Regions from separate parts of the Homo sapiens genome. Here region 2 is linked to region 1. The links come from fine-mapping of genetic effects on plasma protein levels. A gene starts in region 1. The other region holds a variant in brackets. All regions are shown on one strand. Distances are between the middles of the regions.

What was found. A credible set is the group of variants that fine-mapping cannot tell apart. PIP is the posterior inclusion probability: the model's chance that the variant is causal. Protein levels are from antibody-based Olink assays in UK Biobank. Linkage for the fine-mapping came from a reference panel and not from the study's own genotypes, which makes the PIPs less certain.
Region 2: its variant is the best candidate, but not a certain one, in a credible set for the plasma level of the PPCDC protein (UK Biobank, PIP 0.73).

Annotation. Positions count from the first base shown.
Region 1 is chr15:75,021,831-75,024,730 of GRCh38, forward strand. It overlaps PPCDC (phosphopantothenoylcysteine decarboxylase), which reads left to right and starts at 1,760. Exons shown (of 6, transcript NM_021823.5): 1 at 1,760-1,796.
Region 2 is chr15:75,047,930-75,050,829 of GRCh38, forward strand. It overlaps PPCDC (phosphopantothenoylcysteine decarboxylase), which reads left to right. Exons shown (of 6, transcript NM_021823.5): 5 at 624-792; 6 at 1,221-2,797. The coding sequence ends at 1,306. Among named protein-coding and RNA genes, the nearest start is that of PPCDC, 26 kb to the left of the region's middle. The variant C/T (reference allele first, on the strand shown) is at 187.

The DNA.
Region 1 (2,900 bases):
AAACCCCATCTCTACTAAAAATACAAAAAATTAGGCGGGCGAGGTGGCAGGCACCTGTAGTCCCAGCTACTCGGGAGGCTGAGGCGGGAGAATGGCGTGAACACAGGAGGCGGAGCTTGCAGTGAGCCGAGATCGCACCACTGCACTCCAGCCTGGGCGACACAGCAAGACTCCATCTCAAAAAAAAAAGACACGGCTGGATCCCTGCGTAAGGGATGGTTTGGCCCAGATGGTCCACTGCGGCTAAGGGCGGGGGTAGAGCAGAGGCCCCACCTCAGCTCAGGGCAGGGGACCCGCAGCTGGTTCAGCCACCTCAATGAATACAGAGGTTCCTGGGGCCTGTGAAGGCTAGAAAATGAAGGGGGCAGGGAAGCATGCCAGTGTGTGTTCTTCTGCCGCCTTCCCTTTGCCCATTTGATGCCTTCCACCTGGATCGCTATTGGGATCCTCTATCTAACCTCCTGGCTGTCCTTCAAGATTCATTTCAAGTCACTCCTTCAAGAAGGCTTTCCTGCCTAGAGGTGTTGCTTCCTCATGGAGGATCTTACCCTGTCATTTTCTGTGTCCCTGTTTGTCTCAAGAACAGGGACGCATCTGATTTATCTCTGTATCCTGTGCACCTAAAATAGAAGAGGCTTGGTAAATATTAAGTGCCACGAGCCCTCTTTTACTAAGGACCTGCCAACATGGGCCCCATTCACACTAATACCATGAAGATAGCCCTTTTCTATACTTCGTCATAAAAAAGTAATACACACACCCGGGCAGCAACTTCCACACAAACAACACATGTGCAAGGAGATCACCATTATTTCCAGCAAAATGCTCCCCAGGGCCGAGCGTGGTGGCTCACTCCTGTAGTCCCAGCACTTTGGGAGGCCAAGGTGGGCGGATTGTTTGAGCCTAGGAGTTTGAGACCAGCCTGGGCAATAGAGTGAGAACCCGTCTCTACAAAAAATACAAACATTAGTCTGGCATGATGGTGCACTCCTGTAGTCCTGGCTACTCCATAGGCTGAGATAGGAGGATGGCTTAAGCCCAAAAGGTGGAGGTTGCAGTGAGTGGAGATAGCACCACTGCGCACTCCAGTCTGGGTGACAGAGCCAGACCCTGTCTCAAAAAAAAAAAAAAAAACAAAAAAAAAAACAGCTCCCCAACAAGATAGCAGGCTACAACATGCATGTGATGAAGCTGATTTGAAGCGCTCAGTGAGAGGTATCTGCATCAAGTTGCAGGAGGAGAAGAGAGAAAGGAGAGATAATCATGTTCCTGAGGTCTCAGCCCTGGATCAGGAAATCATTGAAGTATTAACATATCCTGACATTAAGGAAATGCTGATGTTTTTGGACTTTGGCAGTCTGTCCAACCTGCAGGTCACTCAGCCAACAGTGGGGATGAATTTCAAAACGCCACGTGGAAGCTGTTTGAATCTTTTTGAGATACTGTAATATTTTCAATAAACCTGGGACAACAGCAAAAAAAAAAAAAAAAAAAAAAAGGCCCCAAGCAACAAGCAGTGTGTGTGGGGCTGATAGGAGTGAGGAAAGGAGGTCGGACAGTTATGCCAGCCCCTATCGAGAGTCCCAGCAATACAAAGAACAGGGCCAGGGTTTGCTCCAGGATTTCCCCAGTGGACTACAACTCCCGGAAGGCAGAGAAGTGGACTACAGCTCCCAGAAGGCTGCGCGACATACAGCCAGCCCGGTGCTCTCGTGAGGCGTGCCAGTCAGATTCCGCGGGAGAGCGGCAGAGATACCGCGATATTTGGGAGCGGCCCCGAGACGCGCCTGGCGCGGGTGAGCAGTGGAAGGGGGCTGGGAAGCTGGGTTCTCGCGGCGGCGCGGGAGGGGAGGTTCGGGGAGCTGTGTCCGCGAGCGTGGGTCCACGGCTGTCTGTGTGTGTCCTTATTTTCCCCTGTGTGCCCATGAAGCTCTGTTTGCGACTGTGCGTGGGTAGGCGGCCGTCCATCTGTGCGACCTCACTTTCCCGGCTGTACGGGTGGGGCCGCCTGGAGCAGGAGGGACCCCCGAGCCCTGAGTGGAGGGTTTGCATCTGTACCCGTCCAGCCCGACTTTGTGCTGCTCTGCGATTATTTGTCCAGTGTCGTTTAATCTAGTTTAAATGATGGCCGTGTCAGCTCCTCACACTGAACGCTTACCCGGGCTGCCCAAAGTACAAAGTGTATTTAAAAAGTTGGTAAAATTAAAAAAGGAAAGCCATGGGATGTTGGAAGTAGCCCTAGGCCTGCCAAAAAGTGCTGAGTGCTATTTAAAAATTAGGCCAAATCTTGTCAGAAAAGAACTTCCTGCTGTCCTTGAAGTATTTGGAAGCAGGTGCTAGATGGTGAGCAGGAGAGGTTGCCAAGTTGGGGAAGTGGTGGTTGTCCTGGAGCAGGGGTTTCCACATCTCTCACAGTGGCTGGGAAGTAGCAATTCGCAGTCACTGCCTTTCTAGTAGCCCACGTGTGTGAGTGTGTGTGTTAGATACATTTATCCCTCAGTATCCGCAGGGGATTGCTGTATACTTTTTTTTTTTGAGACAAGGTCTCATTCTGTGACCCAGGCTGGAGTGCAGTGGCAGGAACATGGCTCACTGCAGCCTCGACCTCCTGGGCTCAAGGGATCCTCCTGCCTCAGCCTCCTGTGTAGCTGGAACCACAGGCATAAACAACCATACCCGGCTAATTTTTATTTTATTTCATTTTTGTAGAGACAGGGTCTCACCATGTTGCCCAGGCTGGTCTCAAACTCCTGGCTCAAGCTATCCTCCTTCCTTGGCCTCTCAAAATGCTGGGATTACAGGTGTGAGCCACCACATCACCCTCCTGTATACTCTTTTTTCTTTTCTTTTTTTTTTTTTGAGTCAGGGTCTCACTCTTGTCTCCCAGGCTGGAGTGTAGT
Region 2 (2,900 bases), 26 kb after region 1:
GGATTTGGGAGATGGTGAGGCTGTGCAGTGGAACATTGCCTGGGTGGTGCCCATTGTCCGGGTGTGGGCGTGGATGACTGCTTACCTCTCAGGGAGCAGCTCCCTATCTGTGAAATGGGACAGCACCTTCTTTATAAGGTCTCAGTGAGGGTTAATGAGATCCTATATATGAGAAGGTTTTGGTAA[C/T]GGCAGATGTTTTCATTGCCAGACTTTAGTTGGCCTCGGAGAGCTGATGTCAAGTAGATGAGCCCCACCTGAGGAGCAGCCTGGTCCTTTGCTTTCTGGTGCAACCAAAAAAGCCTGCCTTCTGCTCCCCAGGGTTGCTTTTCCCAGGAGGTGTGAGCCTACCTGGAGGAGGCTTAGGCACAGGGATACCTGCTGGAGGTCTGAGCGTTGGTTGAGCACCTCCTGTTTGTAGGATCCTGTGCCAGAGCCTGTGGGGAGGTGGAGAGAGGCGAGGAGACATAGCCCCCACCCCTGAGGGATGAGACAGCTCCCTGCAGGCAGGCTGTGCCCAGTCATCTCAAGCCTACAGCTGGGCTGCTGGCTGCAGGGTCTGGAGGGCGGTGGGGAGGGTGGCAGACAGAGTAGCAAGACCCCCACTTCCCTGGCCTTCTTCACAGACCTGCGTCATGCGGGCCTGGGACCGCAGCAAGCCCCTGCTCTTCTGCCCGGCCATGAACACCGCCATGTGGGAGCACCCGATCACAGCGCAGCAGGTAGACCAGCTCAAGGCCTTTGGCTATGTCGAGATCCCCTGTGTGGCCAAGAAGCTGGTGTGCGGAGATGAAGGTGGGTGTCTTGCCAGGCTTATAGCCCAGGGCTGTAGAAGGGGCTCAGCTTTGGGGTCATATCTCAGTTCAGTTCCTGGCCTGTTAATGACCTTAGCAAACCATTCTCTGAGCTTAGCTTTCTCAGCTGGAAAATGGGAATCGTAATTCCTGCCTCCAGATTGGTAGGGTAAAATGGGGTGGAATGTGTAAAGTACCTGGTAGAGTCCCTGGCACGCAGCCCACACGCAGTTAAGGATGGCTACTGGAACGAGTCCCAGGGTCTTGCCAGGGGTCTTGGGAGAGATCTGATGTGTCTGGCTCAGGCAAAGACAGACCTTGCCCTCTCAGGCCTTGGGCTCTGGGTGGAGCACTTGGAGCAATGGGCAGGGGTCTGCAGGGCTACAGGCACTGTTGGCCTGTCTGGCCACAGCGGAATTTTGCTCCCAGGTCTCGGGGCCATGGCTGAAGTGGGGACCATCGTGGACAAAGTGAAAGAAGTCCTCTTCCAGCACAGTGGCTTCCAGCAGAGTTGACCTGGGATTTCTGTCATGGGTGTCCCTCTGTACTCAGAATGGGTTCAGGCCAAGTCGGTGAAGATGGATGTTGGCAAAATAGGAGGATACCCTCATTTGCTGAATGGGGGACCTGCTCTGAGCCTGCCCAGGGGCCAGGCCTGCTCCAGGTTAAACTGGACGGAAGGCCCAGGTCTCAGTTTCTTTCAACCAGGAGAGGCCGCTGCCTAGAGCCCCTCCCCACCTTTTCCTGGATGGGTGAGGCAAGCCAGGAGAGCAAGCAGTGTTGTCCTCACGGGAGGAGGACTGAGCGACTGGGAAAACTCGGCTCTACATCTCACCCAGAACGGCTTTTAGAAACACCACAGCTGGAGAGTCCTGGCTGAGCCTTGGGAGTTTCAGCTCTTTGGCGGGGTGCCCAGGTGCCATGCGATCAGCGAAGCCTGCGAGTTGGCAGGACTCTGAGGTTTCCTGCAGACCATGCCATGAGATTGAAGGTGCGGGGAAATAAAGAAAAATCACCATTTAGGAGACTCCATTCTTTCCCTACAACCCAGCTGTGGTCCCAGAGATCAGGGGGTGTTGCCAGGTGTGGCTGGGGAAGGGTCTGGGTTCACAACTCACCGGCACTCTTTAGTCCCCGTATAACATGGTGGTTAAGGATAAAGATCTGAAGCCAGACAGCCCCTAGTTCCAATCCCAGCTCTGCCGCTTACTAGCAGTGGCAGTTTGGTTCAGGACTTAGCCTTCCTGACCTTCACTTACCTCAGCTATCTTGTTATCCTACCCTCAGGGAGTTGTTGAGAGGATTCAGTGAAATTTTGTGTGCAGAATACCCATGCCACTGAGTGCCTGGAACGTAGTAAATGTCAAATCAATGGAAGTTAAAACTAGGCATGCATATATGCCAGAGAGCTTTCCTAGCATTTACTGCAATGCCCTGTCTCATTTTGGGAAAAAGGAAATCCTGGATGCTAAGTTGACACATCCCTTTATGCAAGTGACAGGTAAGCAGCCAGGAGGGTTGACCCTGCCCTGGGTCCCAGGCCTCTTGCCTGCTTCTTGGTTTCCTCTGTTCTCATCCTTTCAGCTTTGCTGGACCTGAGGCAGGGGCCTGGGTGTCTGTGCCTCCCTACCCCCCAGTACACATGACCAAGGGAAGTAGATCCAGAGACACCATGCACTCTGGCCCAGAAACCCTCTGCTACCCAGCTTTTGACTTAATTGCCATTTGGTGTGGCTGCAGCGGGGAGGGCTTGTCTGCGTATTTGGAGCTGAGGCTGAGGCTGGCTTCCTGCCCTCTGGCTTCCAGGCCAGGTGTGAGGGACATCCCATGTGGGCTCTGAGAGCACTGAGAGTAGAGGTGCCTTGAGGGGACCAGGAAGCCTACTGGCTGGAATCAGTGCTCCAGCAGCCTCCACAGCCTTTATCTCAACAGCACTTGACTTCACCAGGTGACCCTTTGGGATAAAATTGCCTTAGGGTATGAAATAAACTATAACTAAAATGGTAGCATCAAGAACCAACTTCTTTGGCTGGTTTGGGGATGGGGCATGGGGAGAACCTGGGTAACTGAAACCCGGAGACGGTCCCAAAAGTCCATTTACAGGGTTTC